7 linked regions of the Homo sapiens genome follow. The protein of the gene in region 4 purifies or fractionates together with the protein of the main gene of each other region. This does not show direct contact. Each region holds a gene or a part of one and is shown on either strand. Other genes may lie near its edges. The genes, in order: RNFT1, ATP2C1, MMS19, SLC15A2, STX18, SGPP2 and OMA1.

The links.
Region 1: the proteins of SLC15A2 (region 4) and RNFT1 purify together in Homo sapiens (affinity purification with mass spectrometry; one large-scale study listed by BioGRID and IntAct). This does not show direct contact.
Region 2: the proteins of SLC15A2 (region 4) and ATP2C1 purify together in Homo sapiens (affinity purification with mass spectrometry; one large-scale study listed by BioGRID and IntAct). This does not show direct contact.
Region 3: the proteins of SLC15A2 (region 4) and MMS19 purify together in Homo sapiens (affinity purification with mass spectrometry; one large-scale study listed by BioGRID and IntAct). This does not show direct contact.
Region 5: the proteins of SLC15A2 (region 4) and STX18 purify together in Homo sapiens (affinity purification with mass spectrometry; one large-scale study listed by BioGRID and IntAct). This does not show direct contact.
Region 6: the proteins of SLC15A2 (region 4) and SGPP2 purify together in Homo sapiens (affinity purification with mass spectrometry; one large-scale study listed by BioGRID and IntAct). This does not show direct contact.
Region 7: the proteins of SLC15A2 (region 4) and OMA1 purify together in Homo sapiens (affinity purification with mass spectrometry; one large-scale study listed by BioGRID and IntAct). This does not show direct contact.

What each region holds. Positions count from the first base shown.
Region 1 is NC_000017.11:59,954,646-59,958,536, forward strand, and holds part of RNFT1 (E3 ubiquitin-protein ligase RNFT1), read right to left. Parts: intron 3,800-3,891; coding exon 3,646-3,799; intron 2,738-3,645; coding exon 2,579-2,737; intron 1,909-2,578; coding exon 1,843-1,908; intron 1-1,842. UniProt on the Homo sapiens protein: E3 ubiquitin-protein ligase that acts in the endoplasmic reticulum (ER)-associated degradation (ERAD) pathway, which targets misfolded proteins that accumulate in the endoplasmic reticulum (ER) for ubiquitination and subsequent proteasome-mediated degradation.
Region 2 is NC_000003.12:130,953,007-130,956,897, reverse strand, and holds part of ATP2C1 (calcium-transporting ATPase type 2C member 1), read right to left. Parts: intron 3,078-3,891; coding exon 2,922-3,077; intron 1,887-2,921; coding exon 1,818-1,886; intron 795-1,817; coding exon 719-794; intron 1-718. UniProt on the Homo sapiens protein: ATP-driven pump that supplies the Golgi apparatus with Ca(2+) and Mn(2+) ions, both essential cofactors for processing and trafficking of newly synthesized proteins in the secretory pathway.
Region 3 is NC_000010.11:97,470,805-97,474,695, forward strand, and holds part of MMS19 (MMS19 nucleotide excision repair protein homolog), read right to left. Parts: intron 58-3,891; coding exon 1-57. UniProt on the Homo sapiens protein: Key component of the cytosolic iron-sulfur protein assembly (CIA) complex, a multiprotein complex that mediates the incorporation of iron-sulfur cluster into apoproteins specifically involved in DNA metabolism and genomic integrity.
Region 4 is NC_000003.12:121,928,863-121,932,753, forward strand, and holds part of SLC15A2 (solute carrier family 15 member 2), read left to right. Parts: intron 1-119; coding exon 120-284; intron 285-439; coding exon 440-486; intron 487-1,977; coding exon 1,978-2,088; intron 2,089-2,263; coding exon of another isoform or gene 2,264-2,309; exon of another isoform or gene 2,310-2,770; intron 2,771-2,776; coding exon 2,777-2,873; intron 2,874-3,891. UniProt on the Homo sapiens protein: Proton-coupled amino-acid transporter that transports oligopeptides of 2 to 4 amino acids with a preference for dipeptides. Transports neutral and anionic dipeptides with a proton to peptide stoichiometry of 2:1 or 3:1.
Region 5 is NC_000004.12:4,454,883-4,458,773, forward strand, and holds part of STX18 (syntaxin-18), read right to left. Parts: intron 2,619-3,891; coding exon 2,541-2,618; intron 2,376-2,540; coding exon 2,309-2,375; intron 1-2,308. UniProt on the Homo sapiens protein: Syntaxin that may be involved in targeting and fusion of Golgi-derived retrograde transport vesicles with the ER.
Region 6 is NC_000002.12:222,423,201-222,427,688, reverse strand, and holds the start of SGPP2 (sphingosine-1-phosphate phosphatase 2), read right to left. Parts: upstream 3,147-4,488; 5' UTR 3,087-3,146; coding exon 2,868-3,086; intron 1-2,867. UniProt on the Homo sapiens protein: Has specific phosphohydrolase activity towards sphingoid base 1-phosphates. Has high phosphohydrolase activity against dihydrosphingosine-1-phosphate and sphingosine-1-phosphate (S1P) in vitro.
Region 7 is NC_000001.11:58,529,365-58,533,255, forward strand, and holds part of OMA1 (metalloendopeptidase OMA1, mitochondrial precursor), read right to left. Parts: intron 1,366-3,891; coding exon 1,237-1,365; intron 1-1,236. UniProt on the Homo sapiens protein: Metalloprotease that is part of the quality control system in the inner membrane of mitochondria. Activated in response to various mitochondrial stress, leading to the proteolytic cleavage of target proteins, such as OPA1, UQCC3 and DELE1.

The sequences.
Region 1 (3,891 bases), on a different chromosome or scaffold from region 4:
GTGACCCAGTAATCTATTATTTGAAAGGTCTCCAAGTGAGTGCAATATGAAGAAGACTTAGGGACCACTGAAGAATTTTCTGCCACTAGGTCTAAAAATTATTCGAAATTATAAAAAGCATTTAGTGCTAAACATAAAAAAGTTTTACGGAGAAACTGCAACTGTAAATGTCGCTTTGGTAGAATAACTACTGTCAAAACTAACTGAACAAAAATGCAATTATTTGAATTTTCTTCTCTTCTAATGTCCTAATAACAAGTTACTCGTCTCTAAGATTTTAACCTCCTCACCAGATTCAGAACTTAGTCATTAACTAGATGTGATGTCAATAACCCTCAGTGAAATTTGGAGAAATCAAAATGTTACAAATGAAACCTGCTTTCTGTAGAAATGATGGGGAAGAGGTAACTAAAGAGATGTAAGAACACCCAAGTCAGTCACGGTCATGAGGGTAAAGCATGACTTAACATAGCTGAAGTTATCTAAACTTCTTGTACTAAAACGTCTCAGGCTAACAACATCAAAATCAAAGTAAAACTCAAAGGATAAAGATATTAAAAATTGAGGTTTTTTGAAACTGGTAATAAAGATTTCAGAAATAAGTCAGGATACTGTTAGATGATCTTGGTGTCAATTTCCCTTCAGTAAGGTGTCATTTAGCAAAGTACATTTGCAGATAATTATGCTGACAAGCTTTTAAGACGTTACTCATCTGGCATCTTGGAGACTCCCTCTCCAGATAGTAACTGCCATTTCCCTGGTAAAGGAGACTTGAACAAATCCAAGTATTGATGACTGATATCCTCTCTGTAGTTTGTCTCAGAGAAAGAATATCAGGGTATTTTCTTGAGAGTATTTCGGCACAAATCTTACAAGACCAATTATAGTAAAATGGTTGATGCTCACATAATCATCAGTTGAACTGACTTGGACAAAGCTGAACTCTCTGAATTTTATTATGTCTTGTCTAGAGAAACAAGCTTGCATAGGATGTAGCAAAGTTTGTTTCTACATTGCTAACTCTATCTTAGGGAAAAGGCCCTGGCCAGTTAGTCTCGTTTACTTTGTAGACATAATTCTTTTTTTATTTTTACGGTATATTATTCGGTTGGCATTCTTTTAAGTCAGTCTCCTTGGGCCCTGATGAAATGACTGCAAAATTGAGAATCAAACCCTGAAGTCTGCTGACCACACATAGGTACTAGGAACCTTTCAGGCTACTAAGTGGTAAATTAGGGTTCTCTATGACATCCTTTCACTGCAATTTGCAACATCAATAGAATCACACAATAATGTTATAAATGACACCAGAGACTCAATTAATTGTTAAATTTCATGCCATGAACGTATTTATGCACATATAATTGAGCAATGGGGAAATCTGCTCCAGTAAGAAAACTGCAAGAGACATGATTTTTGGCAGTGAGCTTTCTAAACAATAAATTACAATGGAAGGATTTTCACAGGTGAATAAGGAGTTAATAGGAACAAACAAAGCCCCCATTTGTGGATTAAAAAAGAGGAACACAATTTCATAAGATTGTTAAGGGTTTACAAGCCTTAAAAATGTCCAGTGGATTGAAGAGGCAAGAGACAAGTTCAAATATATAAGCACTGCAACAATTAGCAGGTGGTTGTCAATGTGTGATTCAAGAATCTGATCACAGAGATAAAACTCCTAAATTATTATAGCCCCAAGTGCCAAAGTACTAGAAAATAATCAAAGTAAAAGAAAAGGATCATCTATTTATGAAATCCATTCTTGTAAAACTGCTGAACTAAAAAAATTTTTGCAGTGAAGAAAGGTGAAGGTGTTTTTCTTAACTGATAAAAAGTACTTACTGGTTGTGTAAAAAATATTCGTAAAACCTGTCTGAAAGTTCTCAGATGCCCAAAAAATTCCAAAAGCTGAAAAGAGAAATAAGAGATCATTTATTAATTCAAACAGTCCTATTTGCTAAACCCAAAAACCAAAGCTGAAATCCCATAACATCAAATCCTCATATTAACTTAATGTTCATTATATGTCACATCTAATCATTTTGTGCTGAGTATTTTATTCAATTTATAGATTTGAGCCATCTCAGCAAGCTGAAGTACATTTAAACACCTAGAGTAACAATTTGATCAAGACAAATACAACTATGTCAAAGTCAAAGCAATTTTATCTGATTCACCTGTTTTTAACATTTAGATTTTAAAGTTTCATAAAGTGATTATTAGGTTGAGGGGTGCAGGCATGGAGAGAACAGGACAAGATACTCTACTAGTTTAAGAATTATGTGTATGACAATGTTACTGTTGAGGATGGGTATGTTCTATTCCACTTGTTTTCCCTACTTAGATAATCCACGCTATGTGAAGGTCGACTCCCCTTCCCTCCAGTGAAACCTGAGGACCGCTGGATTAAGATAGTCTATTTCCGTTTCTCCATTTCTAAACAAATATAGAACCTGCTATTACTTCAAACTAGTGATATGAAGATAAACTATAAAACTGTTAAAAGAGGAAAACAGTAGTATGTATCAGTAATCATTAATGTGAATCATGCAGTGACAAGATTTGTAATGTTACCTACTTTTAATATGAGGTAGAGTAAAGCCAGCAGTATCCCAAGACTCCATCTAGTTACGTTACCAAACTCCCCATAGCTTATAAGGTAGCGAAACCAAACTGGTATGGGAACAAAAGTTCGGTAGTATTGACACAATTCTTCTAAAAGCATATACCAGTAACCCTAAAAAATAAGAAGAAAACAAATAGAGCTACCCAAACTACTTAACTACATAGCACAAACAATATTAGACTGAGAACACTGAGTATATTATACAATAATATAAATAACTATAAAATTAATCTTCATAATGATTATGACTGAACCTCAAGCTGGTTCTCACATATTACAGTCACTGAGTGGCCTGCTTTGAAAGAATTTCTAGGTTGGACGCAGTGGCTCCCAGCACTTTGGGATGGGCAGATCACCTGAGGTCAGGAGTTCGAGACCAGCTGGCCAACATGGTGAAACCCCGTCTCTACTAAAAATACAAAAATTAACTGGGTGTGGTGGTGGGCACCTGTAATCCCAGCTACTCAGGAGGCTGAGGCAGGAGAACTGCCTGAACCCAGGAGGCGGAGGTTGCAGTGAGCCAAGATCACACCACTGCACTCCAGCCTGGGCAACAGAGCGAGAGACAATCTCAAAACAAAACAAAACCAAAAAAAAAGATACAATGAGAATGTTTTATGTATACTGCAAGTAAAACCTATGTGAGTATGTTTTTGCTGATTATAAGAATTTAAAAGTTTTTAGTGCATATGGGAAACCACTGAATAATTGTACATAGTCAACTGTCAATTGATAATGCCCTGGAGAACAGAAGTACACATCTAAATAGTTTCCCACATATGATGTGGGGACTGATTTTAAAATTATTCTGAAGCAAATATAATTCTGATTTTATCCAAATAGGTTAATAATCAGGTTCAAGTGCCTGAACAAATGGTTGCTAAGCTGAAATAATACAGATAATTAAGCTAGTTAGCAAACTGAAAAACTGCAAAAGGAGGATTCATTTAAACAAAGACTAAATAGCATTAATGTGATTCGATAACATCACTCCAATAAAGCATAAGTGAGTTTCTTACCTTAGATTTAAAAGGCATGATGAAAGAAGGCACCAATAAAATAAGGCATTTTAAGCCCATGAAAAAGAATTTCAGAATGAAGTCTGTAATTCCAACAATCCAAAATACTTCCCAGAAGCTCAAATGGTCCAAAGTAGGATTTAAAAAAATTAAGCTACCAAAAGAAAAACATCAAAATTTATCAGAGCAACATACAAAGATAAAGTATTAATAAAGGGTTTTAATTTGCTACAAATATTTTATTTT
Region 2 (3,891 bases), 9.0 Mb from region 4:
GACACAAGAAAAGGGACAAAAGAAATCGTTGGCAGGTCATAAAATGAAATAAAAATGATCAACCCACACATGACAAAGCATTCGGTTTCCCTAATAATGAACTGTGAAATCAAATAATGAGAACTCTTTTATTTACAGTTGAAGTTAATGACAATACTTAAAGCTGGCCAAAAATTTAAAAGTTACATGGATCCCCTTTGACTAAATAATTTTATTTCTAAGAATTTTTCCTTAAAAAAGAGAGGTATTTACCAGAAGACACCACACTAAAGAAGTATTTATATGACCAAAAAAAAACCCTCAAAAAATCCTAAATGTCTAGAAGAGGTCTTCTTATATGTTTTCCCACAAAATAGAAAACTATACAACCTTTATGTTTGTTTTATGTGACCATCAATTTAATGACAAGAGTTTTATGACAGGATATGTGAAATAAAAATAGAAAAGCAGTCCATAAAACTATCGTATTACATTCTTGTTGAAGACTAGAAAGACAAATACTAAAATGTTTCAAGAAATATTTTCTGATTACAAGAATCAGAGTTCTATTTTTTCTTTGTTGAAATGAACAATGGCTACTAGTAGTCTTATAATTTTAAAAAGTATTAAACTTAATAAAAAAAAGAAAAGCCAATAAATAAAACTAGAATACCACCACCCTTCACATTCAAAAAACAAAACTCAAATAAAAATATATACATACTCACTCTTCTCTTACCTATTATACCAAAGGAGTAAAAGGAAAGTTGTTTTCCTAAGAGGTCCATGCTCTTCTGCAGAGGGGTTTTTGGTGCCTTGATAAATTGAAGAAGAGTGTCACCACAATTAGCTATATTTACTAAGCTTTATCAAGTGCCAGGGGCTTGCTAAGTGCTTGACAAAGCAATTCCTAAGTTAACCATACAACTCTCCCATAAGGTAAATAATCACCTTCACTGAGAAAACTGAGACTTAGATTTTACACAATGCCCAAGGTCACACAGTGAGGAACAGAAATTCTCTATTTTTAAAAACCTGTTTATTATTTGAAAAGGTCCGTTCTCTCTATGCTTCCTTTTGAGGAAAAATCTGTTCTCCCTCCTACCAACCACTGCAGGACTTCATTACCATCAGCTGCTCTCTCACTTGCTTTTCCAATTTTTCCCTTTTGGTATCCACAAACATGCTAGTAACCCAGGTCTTTTAATCCTCCCTCAACTGCTAACCCTCTTCTCTATTCATCCCTTCACTGCCACGCCTCTTGGAATGAGTTCCCACTTTGCATCGCATACTGGAGTTTTGGCAGGTTACCTGAGAAATCCAGAGGATTTGGGGAGAACACGACATTTGCAGAATGAAGCTTCTTTTTATAATAAGAAAGTATTTAAAATGAACTCATCTTTAATACTTTTAGCCGAGAATATCTTGTAGGTTATTTTACTTGGCAATCTTTTCCCTGCCACCCTTACTTGGAATTATGTGAAGTTGAAAAAATTTGATAGAAGACATATTCCAAGGTACAAATATACTAATTACTAATCCTTAAAATTACCACAACACTAATTTCTGAAAATAATAAGATCTACAAATAAGTGGCTATAAGCCTTTTTCTGCTATAAACAATGAGTAAAGCTCAAAATCCTTTAGAATACTAACAACATCAATTTAGACCTTTTCAATTACAGGCTTTCCAATTATGTTTCTAAACAGAGACAACTGATTTCCATTCTGAATAAAATATTGCTCTCAATAGTATATAAAATAATCCAACATTCTCTACTTACAATGAAGAATTTCAGATTTGGAACAAATACATCATTAACATATTAAGTACTCACCTCTTCTGCTTGCATCATTTTAAAAACCTCCCCAAATTCAGAATTTTCTCCTGTTCCAATGACAACACCCTAAGGGGAAAAACAGGAAAATACATTTACATCCAGATGAAATGTAAACCAAAACACATACACACACACATCCAACAACTTTCAAAGTCTTACCTACAGTGAAGATGTCTAACATACACACTCCTAAGATTTCCTCAGCAAATTTACTTTTTTATGTTCCTGTCATTAGCATTTGCCCCTTATGATTTAAACTCTGGAAACAAACATTACATTAAACGTATTGCTGGCCGGGTGCTGTGGCTCACGCCTATAATGCCAGTACTTTGGGTGGCCGAGGCGGGTGGATCACTTGAGGTCAGGAGTTCGAGATCAGCCTGGCCCACATGGTGAAATGCCATCTCTACTAAAAATACAAAAAATTAGCCAGGCATGGTGGGACATGCCTGTAATCCCTACTACACAGGAGGCTGAGGCAGGAGAATCACTTGAACCTGGAAGGTGAAGGTTGTAGTGAGCCAAGATCACGCCACTGCACTCCAGCCTGGACGACAAAGTGAGACTCCGTCTCAAAAAAAAACGTATAGCAGACTCAATTCTGAGGCCTATTTTTTGCCTATATTAGTATTTCTGAAATACAAACATGTATTATACTCAATAGGAGACATTTAATATAGTTTCTTTTTACCCCTAGTGAATGGTGTCTTTTGCACTGGTGGAGTATCAGAATTCAGGAAAGGAAGCATTTGAAATCGATCAACAGGTGAACAACATATAGTCAGATTATTATAGCCAGTATCATATTAACTAAATTAAAATTTATTTAATAATAAACACATCCATGAAAACACTGTTTCTCTCTTTAAAAAGAAACAGGTATTGAGGATTATCCATTATCTGGGAAATAGCAGAACTACGGAAATATTATACTTTGGGGACACAGATTCTCCCCAGTTTCACAAATAGATGTAATGGGTTAAGTTCAATTTTATCCTTTGTCATGTATTTGAAAAATTCCACATAAAATCAGCAAAAAATAATTGAGAAAATAGTTTCAAACAAAGGAACTGCTTTTTTCAAATCAGGAAAAAAATTTACCTTTGCTTTGCCACATCTGACCAGTGTTCCCATAAAGGCAATGTTACTTCTCGATGCAAGATCTCCATTAGTTGCAGCTGGCTGAGGAGCTGTCACCTTAGAACAAGGCGTTGTCTCACCTGTCAAGCTGGACTCATCAATGGAAAGATCCACAGCCTTAGGGAACATAAAGAATCCCAGATTCAAATTTTGTGCTACATTTAACATCTCTAGAGTTCATAACCATCATCACTTCTTCCTCAAACATCCCTTTTCCATTGATTAGCCACATCTTGTATCAAAACCATCACTCTAAAAGACCAGAATCAGTACAATCATATTTTAAAATACAATTAAGTCAACAAAATCTAAGACATGCAAAGTAGAATGCTGTACCATGAGACTAGATTAGCCTAAAATTGAAAATACAACTAGGAAAAATTTGACACTAGCTAAGACTCAATCTTCATCTAGAGAAAACTCAACTTTTCATGACAAAATATTATTTCCTAATTTTGTCAAGTACCTAAAGTTCTGGAAATATGGCTTGGCAGATTAAAACCATCGACGATGACTGAAAGTGATAAATGAATAAAGGGGAAAAATGTTACTTAGAAATCATTTCATCATTTTGGAATCAATTTTCATAAAATCATTATTGTTATACATGCCGTTTATTCCAAATTACAATTTGCAAGACTCAAAAATGTATACAAATGCTTTCATGCAGATCATAACTATCATAATATCTTCCAACTCTGCAACAGGGCTCAGTTTTGAAGGCTTCACTCCTGACACAGTATTTACCTACCCAAGCATACAGAAAAAAGAAAAAAAAAACAATTTTATGAGTATAGATACATACACACATACATACATATATACATACATACATACATACATACATACATACATACATACGAACAAGTGAGGGAGAGGACTAGGGCCAAGTAAGTCAGAAATAGTTAAGAGTTAAACAGCTTCCTCTACT
Region 3 (3,891 bases), on a different chromosome or scaffold from region 4:
AGCGCGAAGACTCAGGATGAGGTCTTCTCTCTGGATACCATGGGGATCATTAGGTGGCTGGAAAAGGGAGAAGGGCTGTGGGTTTGTGTAACATTTCAGACCACCTTGAACACAGGCTCGAACCTGGTAACCCTGCAGAACAGGGTGATACTCATACCCAATCAGGGAAGATAGTAAGATAATGAGGCCCCAGCAAGAAGACTTGCTTGATCTTAGGTACTCCTTGGGAACTTTTGTCTTTAGGCATTTTAAAAAATCTGATTACACATTTTCTATCATTTCACCACTCAGAAATAAGCATGCTTAACTTTCTGGTGTATTCCTTTCTTCGCTGATATATATTGTTACTATGTGCTAGTATATACTGTTTCCATATAAAATATATATATACTTAAAAATCATTTTGTACATGTGGTTTTTAATTTTTTTCACTTAACATATTAAGAACATTTTTATGGTATTATTCTTTCATAGCATTAGTTTTAGTGGCTATGATTTCATTTTGTGGTTGTACCAGTTTATCTAGATAATTCCTTGTTGATGGACATTTCCATTTTTTTCACCCTTATAAAAAGCTGTAATTCTGAAAACAGAAAGCCTTGATGGTTTCTGTACCAAGACGACAGACTGAAAACATATATCAGGTTTTCCTTTTCCTCTTTGCAAACTCCACCAAAAACATAGTAAAAGAAGGGATTTACTATTATTATTATTATTTTTTTTTGAGACAGAGTCTCACTCTGTCACCCATGCTGGATTGCAGTGGCTTGATCCTAGCTCAGTGCAACCTCCACCTCCTAGGTTCAAGTGATTCTCATGTCTCAACCTCCCAAGTAGCTGGGGTTACAGGCGCACCAACACACCTGGCTAATTTTTATATATTTTTTGTAGACATGGGGTTTCATCATGTTGGCCAGGCTGGTCTGGAACTCCTGACCTCGAATGATCCACCCACCTCAGCCTCCCGAAGTGCTGGGATTACAGGCGTAAGCCACCGAACCTGGCCTGGTTTCTGTTTTCATGACTGGACTTTGATAGAAAAGATAAAACTGTGGAATTCTCTTATAAAGTAACAAAAAGACAGAGGTACAAAATAGAAAACAAAAGGTCAGAAAATCAGAGGTCCAACAGAAGATTAATGAGAGTTCCAAAATGAAGGAACAGAGAAAAGAGAGAGGAAGAAATCATCAATTAAAGAATTCAAGAAAAATTTACAGGACTAATGGACACGGGTTACCAGATTGACAGGGCCTACTAAGTACCCAACACAGTACATGAAATAGACCAATACTAAGGCACATCACTGTGAAGTTTCAATGTATCGGGGTGAACCAAACATCAGTTTATAGAGAGGAAGAAAAAAATGGTAAATACAAAAGTTTATGAAACAGAAGAAATTCAGACTTCTCCACAGCAAATGAAAACTAGATAACTAGGCTTATTTATTTATTTGAGATGGAGTTTTGCTCTTGTTACACAAGCTGGAGTGCAATGGCACGATCTTGGCTCACTGCAGCCTCTGCCTCCAGGATTCAAGCGATTCTCCTGCCTGTCTCCCGAGTGGCTGGGATTACAGGCTCACGCCACCATGCCCGGCTAATTTTTTTGTATTTTTAGTAGAAATGGGGTTTCACCATGTTAGCCAGGCTGGTCTTGAACTCCTGACCTCAGGTGATCCGCCTGCCTTGGCCTTTCGAAGTGTTGAGATTACAGGCATGAGCCACCACGCCCAGCCAATAACTAGATTTAAATGTAGCAATGCCTTCAAAATCTTAGGAGAAAATAATTTCCATTTTTTTTTTGTTTTTGTTTTTGGTTTTTTGGTGACTGAGTCTGGCTCTGTCTTCCAGGCTGGAGTGCAGAGGCATGATCTTGGCTCAATGCAACCTCTGCCTCCCCAGCCCAAGCCATCCTCCCACCTCCACCTCCCGAGTAGCAGGGGCTACAGACTCGACCACCACGCCCAGTTAATTTTTGTATTTCTTATAGACAAGGTTTTGCCATGGTGCCCGGGCTGGTCTTGAACTCCTGAGCTCAAGCAATCCACCTGCCTCAGCCTCCCAAAGTAGCGGGATTACAAGCGTCAGTTACTGCACCTGGCCTCTTTCTCAGGTGCAATCATAGTGCACTACAGCCTCAAACTCCTGGCCTCAAGTGATTGTTCTGCCTCAGCCTCACAAGTAGCTGGGACTGCAGACATGTGCAACTGCATCCAGCTAGAATTCTCTTTTTATTTATTTTTTTTTTTGAGATGGAGTTTTACTCTTGTTGCCTAAGCTGGAGTGCAATGGCGTGATCTCGGCTCACTGTAACCTCCGCCTCCCAGGTTCAAGCAATTCTCCTGCCTCAGCCTCCCAAGTAGCTGAGATTACAGGCGCCTGCTACCACGCCTAGCTAATTTTTGTATTTCTAGTAGAGACGGGATTCCACCATGTTGGTCAGGCTAGTCTCGAACTCCTGACCTCAAGTGATCCACCCGCCTCGGCCTCTTAAAGTGCTTAGATTACAGGTGTGAGCCACTGCGCCCGGCCTAGAATTTCTATTCTTGAATTACATGCCCATAATGTCAAAAATGAGAGACAAGATTGAAGGCATTTAAGGGTTACAAATCTAAAAAATTCTCACTTCTTCATACATTCTCTCAGGAAAATACTAAAGGAAGTACACCATCAAACTGAGGGGGTAAACCACAAAATGAGGAATATGTGAACTCAGGAAACAGGAGATCTGATCCAAGAAAAAGGATAAGGGAATCTAGGATGACGGTGAAGGAAGAACCAATATCTACTCTGCATTAGGAGTAAAAATCAACCTGTTGACATTGTTTGGCTAAGAATGGTTTTAACATTTTTAATGTTTGAAACAAACCAAAAGAATATCTTGTGACAAGTGAAAATTATATGAAATTCAAAGTTTAGTGTTGATAACAAAAGTTCTATTGGGATATAGCTACTGTAGCTGTTCCTGTGTCTAAGGCTGTTTTTGTGCAGTAACAGCAGAGTTGAGGAGACCATATGACCCACAAAGCTACTGTCTGGCCTTTTATAGAAAAAGTTGGCCAGGCATGGTGGCTTATGCCTGTAATCCCAACACTTTGGGAAGTCGAGGCAGGTGGATGGCTTGAGCCCAGGAATTCAAGACCAGCCTGGGCAACATGGCAAAATCCTGTCTCTATAGAAAAATACAACAATTAGTCGGGAGTAGTGTCATGTGCCTATGGTTCCAGCTACTCGGGAGGCAGGGGTGGGAGGATCACCAGAGTACCAGAGTCCAGAGAGGTGGAGGCTGCAGTGAGCTGTGATGGTGCCACTACACTCCAGCCTGCCTCAAAAAAAAAAAAAAAAAAGGGAAAGAAAAAGTTTGCCAACCTCTTCTTAGAGTGAGCATATAAGCATAGTGAAGAAACTGAACCTTAAGCTCATCAGATCCACTATGATGGCACACAATACTGATTTGTGGCTGGATATGTGGCTCACACGTGTAATCCCAGCACTTTGGGAGGCCGAGGCAGGTAGATCAGTTGAGGTGAGGAGTTCGAGACCAACCTGGACAACATGGCAAAACCCCATCTCTACTAAAAAATATAAAAAAAAAATTAGTCAGGCATGGTGGCACGTACTGTAATCCCAGCTATTCAGGTGGCTGAGGCACAACAATCACTCGAACCCCGGAGGCAGGGGTTGCAGTGAGCAAGGATTGTGTTACTGCACTCCAGCCTGGGCAACAGAGTGAGACCCTGTCTGAAAAACAAAACAAAACAGAACAGAACCAACAACAATAAAAACCCTGATTTGTAAGACAATAAAGAGTATTTGTAACTCAAATAGTTACACTAAAGCCAAGTGTCTCTGTTTTAATTAATATCTTGATAAGAGCTTTCTGCTTCTGATA
Region 4 (3,891 bases):
AAGGAATTACTAGGTTGAAAGTGTCTGATGAGGTCACCTACCCTGAGATGCTACATCGTGATGTCCAATATGCAGTAGAAGGTGTACGTGACCTTCATTTTATATTCTTCATTTTACAGAAAACACCACACTATTCCAAACTGCACCTGAAAACAAAAAGCCAGGATTTTCACTTCCACCTGAAATATCACAATTTGTCTCTCTACACTGAGCATTCTGTGCAGGAGAAGAACTGGTACAGTCTTGTCATTCGTGAAGATGGGAACAGTATCTCCAGCATGATGGTAATTTGAGGAATTGCCTGTGTTTTCAGTTGTCATCTCAAAGTAATATGACTGTCTCATCAACATCTTACCAAGGATCTGCCTGATGATCAAATTTTCTGAGTATAGGTCTTATTTCATCAGCTGTTACTGATTTTTACTTTCCTCTGTTGTAGGTAAAGGATACAGAAAGCAGAACAACCAATGGGATGACAACCGTGAGGTTTGAATGTCAATGAGATTCCAGGCCACTCTGTTTTCTTGAATCTTGGATCTCTTCTAATCTTTGGGGCTGCATTCTACTTGTTCTGAACAGGAATTCCCTCTCGTAGAATGCCAGGGGCACTGGTGTCAAAAGGCATTTTCTAGGACAGTGAGAGGCAGATAGGCTTCTTTTCTCATGTGGGATTCGAAGATGACTCTATCTGTGTATGCCCCCTGTACTCTGGGGCATAAATCCTTTCTGCTGAATTTTATCTATTTATCTTGCTCTCAGGAAAATAACTGAGTACTTTTCTCTCTGTGATCGCCAGAGAGAAATTTGGAAGTGAGAAAATAATCCTCCCTTCATTTTTGATAGTTGAATATATATCTTTTAAAGTATAGTTTTTATTATAAGCCTGTAGAGGCATCATGGTATAGCACACATTTGGAGTCAAAAGACTTAGTTTTGAATCCAGATAAGGCTGAAGGGTCTTGTCAAATGGTGAGGGACAGTTACAGAGATGGAGTACCCAAGAGGACATGTGTTCTCTGTGGCTGGTATTAGATATGAAATGGACAGATACACAGGTCTATGGCCACCAAGGTCAAGTGGTTGCTGTTGAGAATAGCATTTTAGTGGAGAACTTTTAGTGAAAAGTCTGGATTTCACTGAAGGTTGGGACAGTCATAATAACTTGCTTTTGAATATGCTTCAAAAAAAGTAAACAGCTCAAAATAAGACAATGTGAGGTCAGAGAGCCATGGGCCCCCAGAAGGGGCATTTTCTAGGTCAGTGTAGAATGATCTAAAGTCTAGGAATCAACATTCAGGACTCTAAAGGGAAATGTCCTTCTTATTCCTGGGGCCAGAGACCAAATCAAAAGCTATCAAAACAGAAATGTACCAAAACCCATCCTGAGAGGACAATCTAGGTGCCAGGTTCAGAAAAATAGAAAGATGGTCTTGGAAGGGTCCAAAGTTTCTGCAGACTCCAAAACAATTATAATAACCTACTCTGGGCTGGGAGTCTGAGTTTTGCATAGGTCACATTGGACTTCATTTATAAGAGGATAAGATATCAGTTTTATGTAAATACTATCATATCTTTATATATGCATAATTATCTTATTTTTCTTAGTAAAGTCTCAGTTGATAGATTCCACCATTATAAGGGAAATAAATTAGATGCACCTAAGCTGGATTAGTGAGGAAACTCAGATTTCCATGAATGATCATGATAGTGTCCGTCTAGCTAGAGGTCTGGTGAGGATGTGGCAGATAAAAGTTCAAGAAAAAGAAACTTAGGGACAGCTAAGACTATGGATTACTTTTTACGTGTGGGTTCATTCGTCTAGTTAACAATATACATTAGGTACCTTTTATGTGCCAGCCACTATCCTAGGCACCTGGGCACTGGGGATATAGTTATACCCAAAACATAAAAGGCCCCTAACCTCTTTTATCAGGTGTTCCTGTTTGTTTGATATGTAAATAATATCTCTACCCTCAGGTTTGTTAACACTTTGCATAAAGATGTCAACATCTCCCTGAGTACAGATACCTCTCTCAATGTTGGTGAAGACTATGGTGTGTCTGCTTATAGAACTGTGCAAAGAGGAGAGTAAGTGCATTGCCCCTGTGGACATTTTACTTTTGTCAATAATTGTTTTTTAAGTGCTATCTTTGTATATAGGTGGGGAACTTAGGTGCATGTGGTCTAATTTTGAGTATAGACGCACTACTGATCTTTTCCAACTCTTGCTTCCTTCCCTCAGTCTCACTTTTTTTCTGCACAGATATGTTGAGATCACGATTGCCGTGAAGACCACACTATATAGTTAACACAGCCCATCTCTGTATAGTTAACACAGTCCGTCTCTGTGAGTTTCTCAAAGTTTATTATTGGTTTCCATTTCTACTAAAGAAGGTACTTTGGTACCTTACACTGGCACTTCATTACTTAGAGCTTATCTTCTCAGGTTCACTGTTATAGCCTGTTCTACTAAGTCATAAGATTTGCATGAGGAAAATTCACATGGTACTTAAGTTAACAAAAGAATATGATTTGTAACTTCTTTATTTAGGTTGAATATTTTAGAAAATACCTGACAAGCAATAAAGAGCTCAAATCAGGGACAGAAGCCTGGCATGAAAATAACCTACTCCAAGAAACATTTCTCTTCAAAGATAATTAGTGGCTTCACTGCTTTCCTCACCATCAGTAGAGAGATGAGATCACTTTCACCTGGAGATGGGAATGCTTTTCCAAGCCTTGATATTTATTCTAACCTAAATTCATCCTGTTCCAGATACCCTGCAGTGCACTGTAGAACAGAAGATAAGAACTTTTCTCTGAATTTGGGTCTTCTAGACTTTGGTGCAGCATATCTGTTTGTTATTACTAATGTAAGTAGCTCACAGCCACCTCTTTACCCTCTCTCCATATACATATATCTCCTGAGATCCTCTAGGCAGGGGCAGAAAACAAAAGAGAAGACTCTGTGGCAAAGCAGACACGTATATTTATTTCTAGCATAAGATGACAGGTTCTACAGTGACTTTAATTATTTTTATTTTTATTTTTTTTGAGACAGAGTTTCGCTCTCATCGCGCAGGCTGGAGTGCTGTGGCACCATCTCGACTCACTGCAACCTCTGCCTCCCGGGTTAAAGTGATTCTCCTGCCTCAACCTCCCCGAGTATCTGGGATTACAGGCACCCACCACCACCATGCCCAGCTAATTTTTGTATTTTTAGTAGAGATGGGGTTTTGCCGTGTTGGCCAGGCTGGTCTCAAACTCCTGACCTCAGATGATCCACCAGCCTCAGCCTCCCAAAGTGTTGAGATTACAAGCGTGAGTCACCGCACCTGGCTCTACAGTGACTTTAGAAAGCCCACTGTCTCTGTAGGGGTTGTTAAGAGATAACATCAACAACAAGCAAAGGGTCTTGGGGAAGGAGAAACATAATTTATCTTGAGCCATCACTGTGAGATGCCACAGCTTGCTCCAGTCTTTTTATGTCTCCAATCAAACACAAGTTATTTATGAAAAAGTACTAATGTCTTCTTGGCCAGCTTCATATGCAGATCTTCTCACTCTCTGGAAATTTGATCTGCTAGCATGTCACAGTCTGAAATACTGAAACTGATAATAATGTCAATCCCTACACAAAGTTTGGGGATCAGTTAACTGTGATCTGTCAAAAACAATTGTCCTAGCAGTCAGGGCAGAGTAACTGATTTTAATTTTGATGTCAATCTTGACTTTAATTTTGTTATTTCATTATTATTCATACTGTATTAAAGACTAAAAGATAGTGAATAAAAAAAAGAGAGAACATTTCTAGAGGTTTGATGAGAACCCAATCTACAAAGTTCTATTTATTTTACTAATTAATTAATTTAATTAACTTGATCCCTTTGG
Region 5 (3,891 bases), on a different chromosome or scaffold from region 4:
CTGCCTGGCACATGGTAAATGCTTAGTGGTAGATAATAGTACAAATTAACATTTATTAACTCACTGTAAGTGTTTTATCTGTATCTTCATTTTGTTCTCACAACAGCACTACAAGTTAGGTACTATGAGTTTTCCCATTTTATAGGTAAGGAAACAAAAGCCCAGAAAAGTTAAGCAACCTGCTCAAAGTCACACAGTTTGAAAGTGGCAGAGCCAGGATTCAAACACAGGCTGTCTGGTTGCAGAGTCTGGCTCTTAGGCATTATACTATGCCACTTGATCGTACCATTTCCCCCTCTGAGCTTACTACCGATTTCACTAATTATGACATATCCTGATTAAGCTGACTAATTTTTCATGTTTAATAGCAACCCAGCCTGCTTCTAAGCTCTCTAAGCACAAAGACTTAATCTATGGCTTCTCTCAAGCTACCCTCTCAGTGCATTATATAATAGTAGCTGTTGCTGACAGATAACTTGACTGATCTGCTTACTATCTTCCACAAATGCTTCTATTTGTTGGCATTAACAATTTCACATCTGTTTCACAAATGTGCAGAAAAGGGTTCATGTAGTAGGCCTGAGGCTGCTATCCTTAGAAAGGCCTGCTTGCAAGGTTAACCCTTGCCTGGCATCTGAGAAGTTGGACTTTGGCAGAGTTCATGCCATCCTAATTGATAAAAACAGCTCGCCGTGCCTGAACTGTTTTGCAAAACATGCGGTTTGAATGCAGTTCAGTGCTGAGCACCTGCTTTCCTCCTGGGAGTCTAGAGTTTCGGTAGATGCCAGGTGTGAGGTGCCTATGTGACCAGCCCCTAACAGAATCCTTGGGCAATGAGTTACTAATGAGCTTCCCTGGTAGACAACACTTCACGTGTTGTCATAGGTCACATGCTGTGTGACTCCACTGGGAGAGTACTCTTAGAAGCTCATGCCTGGTTTCCTCTGGACTTTTGTCCCACATGCCTTTTCCTTTGCTGTTTTGCTTCGTATCCTTTCAGTGTGACAAATCATAGCCAGGAGCAGGACTGTATGTTGAGTCCCATGAGACCTCTTAGTGAATCCTAGAACCAGAGAGTAGTGCTGGGGACCCCTGACACAGTAAGAATTTAAAAAATGTGGGCCAGACATGGTGGCTCACGCCTGTAGTCCAGCACTTTGGGAGGCAGGGGGATTGCCTGAGCCCAGGAGTTTGACAGCAGCCTGGGCAACATAGTGACATCCCACCCTTATAAAATAAAATTAAAAAATAGGCAGACATGGTAGCACATGCCTGTAATCCCAGCTACTCGGAAGGCTAAAGTGGGAGGATTGTTTGAGCCCAGGAGGTCGTGCCACTGCACTCCATCCTGGGAGACAGGGTGAGACCCTGTCTCAAAAACAAAAAAAACAAAAAAAAACAAAAAAGAAAATGTGTCCCCAAACAGTTATGTGATGTTATCTTCTGAAAGAACATCCTAAAACCTTTCTAAAGCTAGTCTAGAAATGGTCCAGGTTTGGATACTTGCTCACTGATGTATTCCATCTCCAAGACTGGCTGAGTTGCAGCGGGAACGACTGTGAGGACACAGCTCTTGCATTCCAGATGCTCATGTGAGCCCAGAGGGGAAACCAGGCAGGCGCCATGGAAAATACAGGAGCCTGGCCCTCCTGCTTCCTGTGGCCTTGGATGAGTCATTTACCCTGCTGGAGCGTCAGCGTCCTTACCTGCTGACAGGGCTCCTAATAGTGCCTGCATGGGACAGGTAGTGGGGTTGGAGGGAGGTGTGCACTCAGAGCATGTGGCATCGAGCAAGTCTGTCACAGGTGACCTGAGGACAGCCTTGTGGTGGCCTGCTTGTTGTGCCCTCGCTCTTCTCTCAGGAATACACTTTCAGGGACGACAAGAAGGGGTATGGGGGTCAAAGAGATTGAGGTAAAATGGCTCAAGATGTGCCAGCCTCATCGGGTTAAGAGACAAAATGGGCAAGAGCACAGATTTTGGACCAACAGCCTAGGCTCAAACCCCAGCTATGCTACCTGTGGGACTGTGGGATCTAGGGTGAGTGGCCAAGCCTCCTGAGCCTCAACTTCCTCATTTGTAAAATGAGGGAGGAAACAGTACCTGCCTCATGGGGGTTTGTTGTGGGCCAATAAAGTGGCTGGCATGCTGCCTGGCACACAGTGAGTGCCCGGTAGCGCCAGCTATGGCATTTTGCGAAGAAGTTCAAACACGGTACATTGCATAGGGTAAGTGCTCTACAAACTTTAACTGCTATTATTAGTAGTACTATTATTAATTAAGAAACACCAATGAAAGCAATACTTACAATCTTTTCTTATCCACCACTCTTTTAACTCGGATGGCTCTCTGTTCTGAGTAAAGTTTACATACTCCTGTTGCAGAAGAAAATACCAGAAGAGAGACTGCTTAAAACAGCTTCTCAGGCAAAGCCATCATTAAATATAATGAGATACTACAGTCTTCAGCTAGCAAAGCTAAATTCTGCATCACATCTATTGTGAAATGTTACATTTGACCTTTAAAAGAAAATGAAATACTTTTCAAGTAATCTTCAATGAAATCCAAAACAGCGGTCCTGTGCTCCTTCACTTGCTGGGAATGTATCTCCTTGTGAGCTGTAACAGAAAAAGACAATGTTCAGGCCTTCGCACTCAATTATCCTAAAGAGCAATTCATCAGCTTCCTCACAACACTTTCTTTATTGAGAGTATTTTTTAAAACACAGCTATAAAACAAGTCTTGTGCCAAGTGACACTACATTTTTAAAACAGTAAGATGTATCAGGCTTCGCAAGAGTGAAAGATTAAACCTGTAGAAAATCTATAGTCAAATAATTTATGGTTTATCAGAACACTTAAGGATAGTATTTGACGCAGCCACTTCTTGAGTGCTGACCCCATCTGTGTTAACAGCATCCAATGCTCAAGCTGACCTTCAGCGAACATGTTTAAACAACTGAAATCACACACTCCTCCCTGCTTGAACCTGTGCTGCTTTTCAGCCTGTAGTGCCCCATCCTCTCCCCTTGGCCACTCACATTCTAAGGGTCCCTTAGACAATGAGTCAAACTTTCTGTCTCCAGGAAACCTATGACTCCTAGCCACAAAGATGCCTTTCTCCTGGGAACTACCACACAGAAGTGTGCTAAAAGGCCTTACCAGACCTAAAGTCTGTGCCACTGGTTTTGGTAAGATAGTGACCACTGACTGAGAGACTGAGTGCCTACTGCGTGCAGGTACTCTGCTAGCACTTTACATATGTACTGCTAGTAATTACAATAGCAATTCCGAGTTTCCTGATTTTTACACGTGAAGAAACTAAGGTTCAGAGGCAATAAATAGCCCAAGGTTAGATGGTTTCATATGTAAATGTAGGTTTTGTTAAATATTCCTGTGCATTTTTTAGGTCTCTCAATGAATGTATATGCCCTTAAGGGTAGAGGGCATGATTTCTGCCTTACTATAGGGCTGCTTAACCCAAGATTTGTGTGGGGGACTCAGGAGCTCTGTGAAATTGCATATAGAATTTTGTGTATGTACATTTTTCTGGCAAGAATGCCTATTGCTTCCATCAGAGTCTCCAAGTGGTCCGTCAGCATTCTAATAAAAACCTCCCCAACAAAAGTCTGTGTTGTGAGCACAACAGCATCTGGCAGCTTTGAACTCTACTTACTATTTAATGTACTCTGTAAATGCCTAAGCAAATTAAAAAAGAATCAAGAAAGAGGCGTGACTTGGGAAGCCATCTCATTGTCTCAGTGAGAATTAAACATCAACGAAAGTGAGATAATAAGCGCTCTTGTGCCAGACACAGTTCTAAGCATGCTGTAGGAATTTAACTTAATGCTCATAACAACCCTAGAGATACATTCCCTAATTGTCTGCATTT
Region 6 (4,488 bases), on a different chromosome or scaffold from region 4:
TATTGTTTGAAGGGTCCTAAATCAACGTCCTGGTGCTACCTTCTAGGCTATGCGGAAAAATCACTTGATTTTCAACATTCACTCATTTTTTTTTAAAGAAAAACGAAACATCGCCAGTCACAGTGACTGACGTCTATAATTTCAGCACTTTGCAAGGCTGAGGCAGAAGGATCACTTGAGGCCAAGAGTTTAAGACTAGTCTTGGCAACATAGTGAGACCCTGTCTCTACAAAAAACAACAATAACAACAACAACAACAACAACAAACCAGATGATGGCATGCATCCGTAGTCTTAGCTACACAGGAGGCTGAGGCAGGAGAACTGCAGGAGTCCAGGATGTGGAAGATGCAGTGACTTATGATTGTGCCACTGCACTCCACCCTGGGTGACACAGCAAGACCCTGTCTCTTAAAAAAAAAGTTTAAAACTATAATTTTATATTGCAATCTACATGCATGTATTCACAAAAGTCACTAGTCCCTCCTACGTGCCAGGCTATGAGAAAAAAATAAGGACCATAACAGAAAAGTTGCCTGCATTCTTAGAGTTTATCATCCTCTGGAGGGGCGGGGAATAATCAGATATCCACACAAAGGCACATTTAAACAACGTGATAAATGCTGTAATGAAGAAATGCAGAAAGCAAAGAAAAACTATAGCAGGGGGAGCTAGGCTGGAAGGTCAGAGAAGTCACCCATGGAGGAACTGACCTTTGGAAATAGAAGGATGAGTGGGGAGGATATTTAGAGAAAAGACAGGCAGCTCAGGCAGGCCAACGCCTGTACAAAGGCCTGCAGAGAGGGCAGCACACTTTTCACAACTGCCCCCTTAAAGTCCTGTAAATTGCCTGAGTGTAGATAAGAGATAATTTTTGAGGGGGGGAATCAATGTGTGTATGTAAAGGATTAATCTTCCCAAGTCATTTGAAACCAACCCACCTGTAAAAACATTAATTAACCTTTCATTTATCAAGCACTCTCAAGTTTATGATTTCCCCCATTATATACCAACACAATGATTTCTTATCTTGGGCATTCAGCTTTCTTGCTTTTACATGATCTGTAAGCAGAAGTCCTGTGTTGGCTGGGTGGGTGTGGGGAAACCGCCACAATTTCACTCACTGAAGACCCACCAGGATTGTCAAGCAGTAAGAAGATAAAACTGTGTAAGAAATCTGCTTAGCTTGCTTTTAAAGGTCAAGAGGATCCAACTGTGGAGTTTAAAGTTAAGTTACCAGGGGTGATGTTTAAAACAGTTTGAGAAGCACTGGTGGAACAATTCACTCTTTTTCAGCTTCCTGAATTAGAGAAACAGGGTAGAAGCTTGTGAAGAGAGCAACAGAAAGCAACTCACGTGTCTACCTGTGGGTGTAAACAGTGTGTGCACCGAATATGTCACGGCACGTTTCAGCCATGGGACTGTTTTTTGTTTGTTTGTTTGTTTGTTTTGGTCTTTTTTTTTTTTTTTTTTTTTTTTTGAGACGGAGTCTCGCTCAGTCGCCCTGGCTGGAGTGCAGTGGCGTGATCTTGGCTCACTGCAACCTCCGCCTCAAGCTATTCTCCTGTCTTAGCCTCCGGAGTAGCTGGAACTACAGGCCGCACCACCACGCCCAGCTGATTTCTTATCCCCCCTACTCTGCCCCGTTTTTAAGACAAGGCAAGAGAAAAAAGAGGGGTTCTCATACTCATCTATAGGTTACCGGAATGTCACATGGGATAAAGAAGGAACAATAAAGAGGAAAAAATACAGAGGAGGATTTCTCTGGAGTAGAACACACAACCACCCTCACCCTCCCAAACAAATTCTGTAATCCAATGCCTATAATATTCCATTCCACACAGAAGCCAGGTTCTTCGTAATTCCTCAGTTACTACATCTAGAAATTTACACGTAAGTAAAGGCCACCTTTCTTTCACCAAAACCTTCTAGGAAGAACAAAATGTGGCTGTGTACAAGGAATTCGAATTATTAATACGTTTATTTCTGTTCTCCTGCGCCACACTTTTGACTTTGCCGAGGGAAAAGGCAGGTGCTGCCAGTGCTCCCGGTAGACATGCGTCCCCAGAAGCCAAGTGCAGCCCGTCTGGTCCCTGCTGCCTAAAGTCCCTGTGCACTGCGACGACGACGCACGCTGGTTCCCCCCAAGCCGCAGTGGGTTGTATAACCACGCTTTGAACACCTAGCGGGAGCGTAGCGAGCTTCCCTCCCAGAAGCATCTGTTAGAAGTCACTGGTGTCGGTCCATAAAAGACCCACCAGGCAGGAGGGACCCCCAGACTCTGGGGGAGGGCAAGCGAGAGTTGCTGTTAAGACATCATCGCCGGGGGTAGTGCAGGGAGGTTGTAAATCTCTCTAGGAGCTGTGTGAGCCCCAAGTTCTGTGCCCAGAGCTGGCGGTGCAGCGCGGTGAGGAGCGCGCTGAGCCCGGCTGCACCCGCATTTGTGCGCATCAGGGAAGGGGGATGGGCGGAAATGCAAGAATACGGGGGTGGGGGGGAGTCTAAGAACGTCTCCCCGGGGAAGTGCCAAGGACATCCCCGCTCCTCCGTTCCATTACGTAACTCTTACATATTTGCTGGCATCTACGTGAATTTAACTACTTTTGAAAGTGGGAAGTCTCTAAATGGACTGCATTGAAAGCGTCTGGGGATATCTCAATAGACCCGGTTGCCCCTGGCAGCGTTGGAGGGTGGCATCCTGGTTACTGGAAGGCCAGGCCTCCCCGTCCGCTCGCAGCGGCGGGAGCCGGGTCACTGCCGGGGACGGCGCCCTCTCGGCCCGGCCGGCCCCGCGTGGCGGAGTCGCAGGGACCCGCACGTCCGCAGCCGCCCCCTCCCCGTACCCGGCGAACACCTGCCCATGGTTACCTCCGGCGCCGCGGCTCTGCGCAGCCCGTTGGCCGGAGCCTCGCCGCCCTTGCCGTTGGCTGCGGGGAGATGCTCGACCCCGGGGACCCGCGCCGCGCGCTCCGTGGGGTCCGCGCCGTTCTCCCGGGGGCCTTCATCCGGAGCGGGGAAGAGCCCGCAGCGGCGCTGGAAGCGGGCGACGAGCTGGGAATCCTGCAGGCTCCGCAGCAGCTCGGCCATGGTGTGCCCGGGGCCGCGCTCCGCCGCCGCTGCCACGCCGGGCCGGTGCCCTCCGCTGGCACCGCCACTCCCGCCTCGCCCCCGCCGATCCCGCACTCCGGGCGGAGGCCGGGCGGGCGGGGCCCCGGGCCCAGCCAACAGGTGCGCCGCCCGGGTCCTAGCGCCCGCCCAGGTGTCTGCCTCCACCTTGCGCAACGCGTCCCCCTTTCTCTCCGTCCCGGAGGGCTTGGGCGGCCCCGGGCGGCCACGGGGGCAGGACCGCCTGTAACTGGACGGAGGAGTGCCGATCTCCGAACTGCGCCTCTCTTCTCCCGGCGCCCCCAACCCCCCACCCCACCTTCTTCCCCCGGCAGACGTAACACTAATGGGAGCGGCCGAGCGCGCGTGCACCTGCGGCCGCTCCCATTAGCCCATCCTTTTGGGCTCAGGCTGATCCCACAGTGACCTTCCTTGCAACTCTGAGCCCAAGGTGAAGTCGGATTTCCTCCCACGCCAGCTCCCCACAGCCAGCCACGTACTCTCACCTTCCTGCAAGACTAGTTCCCAGTAAATACAGCGAGCCCCCCAGGGAGAATTCCCAAGTTCTTTCCAAACTGCGTGATGCAACGTCTCCCTAGAGGTCCGAACACCCTTGAGCTTGCTCAAGTACCCAGGAGGTTCAAAGTGGGCCCTGAGTCATCTTCCGCGTCGCTGCCCCTGCCCTTCTGATTTGGCAACTGGGGAACATTTTCAGGTGGGTGGGAAGGAAAGTCCCTTCTGGGTTTTCCGCATTGAGAACAAAGATGCTTACCGCTTTCTCCTACTTCTTTCTTTCCGCTCTGCCTCTCTTTAAGCAATGACACTGGGAAAACCCCACCAGACCATTTAGGGAGTTTAAACGAGAAGAGAACAAAGTGCTGGAGGACTGGGGACAGGATTAGGTATCTCATTGCACCTGCACCTGCTTTAGAGCACTCAGCAGAAGATAGCAAAGGAAACATCCTGCAGGCCGGCCTTGGTTTTCCCTCCTCCCTCCTACATTTCCCTCCTGGGCTCAGAGATCCCTTGGGAGGCAACAATCAAATTAGGCCCAGGTGATCAGTCTGCAACAAAAGTGCAATTCAACCCCGTCTTTCGTTTGCAGCAGAAACCTGCATGTTTCCTGATTGTCCATGCAAAGCCTACTAAGAATTTGGTTGCACAAATGATTAATGAACACCTGTCAATGCCTTATTTATTCAGTTGTCCTTTTAGGCCTGAATGTCTTTGGGATGTGACTTTCCAGGATGATGTAGTCCCCTTCATGCCCTAGTTTCTACTTTTCTTGCTTCTCAGTCCTGTCTGGAGAGCAAAGTCAAGGGGACTGAGAGAATGCTGAAGCTCTTAAGGGAAACCATTTTCCTCTTACAGAAGACACGCAGAG
Region 7 (3,891 bases), on a different chromosome or scaffold from region 4:
ATGTAAAACAAAAAAATTATGGTTAACAAAGTAGTTATAAAGATTGCAAGACCTACTTTCAGTATTACAGTGTTTTGGACAAAATGAGGCACTCAATACATTTTTGAGATGATTATTATACATAAGCACTAAAAACAAAAGTTAACAAACACCTAGTAAGACTTTCCTTTCAGCATTTTCAAAGCAATGATATTTTAACAGAGTGAAAAGCAAGGAAGGATGGCAAAGTAGCTTTAGCCAATTCTGTGCCCATTAAAGTTCAGAGGTTTTAACAGTGCCGCATTAAAACCCAAATACAGTTGGCTCTCTATATCTGTGGATTATGCACCTGGTAGATTCAACCAATTTGGATAGAAAATATCTACGAAAAAACAATTTAAAAAACTACAACTTAAAAATATATATAGTAAAATAACTATTTACATAGCATTTACATTGAATTACAAGTAATCTAGAGATGATTTAAAGTATATGAGAGGATGTGCATAGTTACATGCAAACACCATGCTTTTATTTTTATTTTTATTTTTTTTTGAGATGTAGTCTCACTCTGTCGCCCAGGCTGGAGTGCAGTGGCGCAATCTCGGCTCACAGCAAGCTCTGCCTCCTGGGTTCACGCCATTCTCCTGCCTCAGCCTCCCAAGTAGCTGAGACTACAGGCGCCCGCCACAACGCCAGGCTAATTTTTTTGTATTTTTAGTAGAGACAGGGTTTCACCACGTTAGCCAGGATGGTCTCAATCTCCTGACTTCGTGATCCACCCACCTTGGCCTCCCAAAGTGCTGAGATTACAGGCATGAGCCACGGCGCCCGGCCAATACCATGCCATTTTTTATCAAGGACTTGAGCATACTCAGATTTTGGTATCCACAAGAAGTCCTGTATACCAAGGGACAGCTGAATTTGGGAGTCATTCAGTTACTACGAAAGGAAGGGTCAGTGGCTGGGTTTTCTCTCTGTAAAACCAATAAATATATTTTCAAAAATTTTATTAGCCAAAAGTTGCCAAGCCCTTCTAACTCTCCATACCCATCATTTGAGAGATGTAGTATTCCTTAATTTAAATATTCATATATAAGAATATCCCCTAAAAACGAGAAAACATAAGACACTAAAAATTCGTACCCATATTTCATAGTAAAATGTAAAAACATCTCTGGATTTGCTGCTTTACAGTAGTATTAAAATATCTTCACCAGAGGCTATGATCAATTCAAGTTATTGTCTCAGACTTACCTCCTGCAATTTAGACTGTATCCACTGGCACAAAAGTGCCAAGCTATCTCGAGGACAAATGGCCCAAATCATTGTGAGGAAAATCATACCTAGGAAATCCAACAAATGAACCATGCCAGCCTTTTCTGCCTAAGAATAATCAAAATAATAAAAACTACATTTTATACATTGAGACAGTATATGCTTACATTTTCTAGTTCATCATGTGTTACAATTACCTGACCTTCTCCACCTAAGACTGAGAGTTCTCTTTTTCTTCTTTTGCTTATTCTTTCCGGGTCTGTTTTTCCCTTCCTTGGTTTATCTACTTATATACCTATTCATTCATTTAACTAGTATCTACTAAGCCACTTACTATTAGTCAGAGGATATAAACCTACAATTTCTTATATTAACAGGCATAATAATCTTGTGAAATAGCTACAATTATCCCTACATTTATAGATAATGAAACTGAGATAGAGAGAGGTTAAGAGTTGCCCAGATTTGCACAGCTATTACTAAAAGGACCAGAAATCAAACCCGGTCAGTTTTAGTTTTTAATATAGTTGCATCATTTTAAAAAATCAAGTAAATGTTTTATTTTACTAATATTTTTGGATAAAGACTAAACACTACCTAACATATGAAGCACTTAAAACAAGAAAAAATTCAGAAAAAGACTGGAAGTTTATTTTAAATAAAAGTATTCTGATCTTCAAGACCTAATATATGAAATATTATTCATTTATACAAGTTTGTAAATTTGTAAGTCTAGTATTTATCATGAAAGAATCAGGTTCTATGAATTTTTGTATTTACTTATATCAGTTACCAAAAAAGATTTTTCATAAAATAGTTGTTTTGAGTAGTAATATCTAAGTTTAATGAACTAGATTGTTCATGGTTTGCCATTAAAGGTGATTAGTAAATGTTAATGTTGTAATGCTGAAACTGATAAAATAGCAGTCATTACTTGAATGTATGAAAAATGACTGAAAACTAAAAACTGACTTAGAATATTGTCCCTTAACAAATATTGTACCCTCACAAAACATACTTTACCTCCTTATATTTGCCTCATTACTTTGCCTCAAAACACAAATGTGTGTTTTGAAAAACAATTATGGATTTATCTTTTTTTTTTTGAGACAGAGTCTTGCCCTGTTGCCCAAGCTGGAGTGCAGTGGCGAGGTCTCGACTCACTGCAACCTCCGCCTCCAGGTTCAAATGTTTCTCCTGCCTCAGCCTCCCGAGTACCTGTGATTACAGGTACCCACCACCATGCTCAGCTATTTTTTGTATTTTTAGCAGAGATGGAGTTTCACCATGTTGGCCAGGCTGGTCTTGAACTCCTGACCTCATGATCCACCCACCTCAGCCTCCCAAAGTGCTGGGATTACAGGGGTGAGCCACTGTGCCCAGCCCAATTATGAAATTATTTTAACATGAAAAAGTGAAACTCAAAATAAGGAAGTTGTTATAGAAGAGAAAGCCCTTGTTATTAAAGAATATAATTGCTATTATACAGTCTTAGAAAACTGGAAATACACACACAAAAACCTGTATTTGTAGAATAAAGAAAACATAAACGCCTAGATAAAATCAAAACTGAGACTCCCAAAAGAGAAAATATTGTGCTGACAATGTTTAAGATCTCTGCAAAAACATATTAATAACTATGTTCTATTTTTAAGGCTGCTGTTTGCTTTTTACACCTCATCTACTACTGTTCTTGCACTGATAGAGATGACAATACACTGAATATAAGGCACTGAACTAGATGCCTAAAAAACAAATGTACTGAATAGTAACACCTTTCAAATGCTAAAATGGCCAAAACTGATTTTGCAGTTGTGAAGCCATTACTTGAAAGATATTAGAGTGCATATAATAACACTGCTTAGACGTATTCTTGTGTATATTTGTTTAAGAAAAAAAGATTTTTTTTCTTACTTTTTTGTTTGAGACAGTGTCTCACTCTGTCACCCAGGCTAGAGTGCAGTGGTGCGATCATGGCTCACTGTAGCCTTGATCTCCCAGGCTCAAGCAATCCTCCTGCCTCAGGCTCCAGAACAGCTGGAACTACAGGTGTGAGCCACCATGCTCAGCTAATTTTTAAAATTTTTCTGTACAGACTGAGTCTATGTTGCCGAGGCCAGTCTCAAACTCCTGGGCTCAAGCAATACTCCTGCCTCAGCCTCTCAAAGTGCTGGGATTACAGGTATAAGCCACTGCACCCAGTCAAGAAAAATGTTTTTAAAATCTTCCTGTAACTCAAAAGAAATCAAGGAGATAATTACTTTCAGTGTTTCAGAAAAACAATTTAGCCCATCTCATCTTATTAATAGTCTAAGGAACAGGTAGAATTTGAGATTACTCTTAGAAGGATTAGAATCATTATCATTTCCATTTGAAGTTAATGTTACTTGTATTTCTGATTTAGCATTTCAGTCACTTCACTATGTACCTTTGCGTTTACAATTTAAAAAATACTTTCTCTAATGTAGACAAAAGAGCCATTTATATTTTTAAATGAATAACAATTTAAAAAATGTGTGAAACAGATGTGTTATTTTTCCTGGACTTATATCAAGATGAACAGACATGTATTCACAGGAGCATACATCAACTTGAATTCTATGATCTATAAGAAAAGCGCTGCTAAAAACCAGG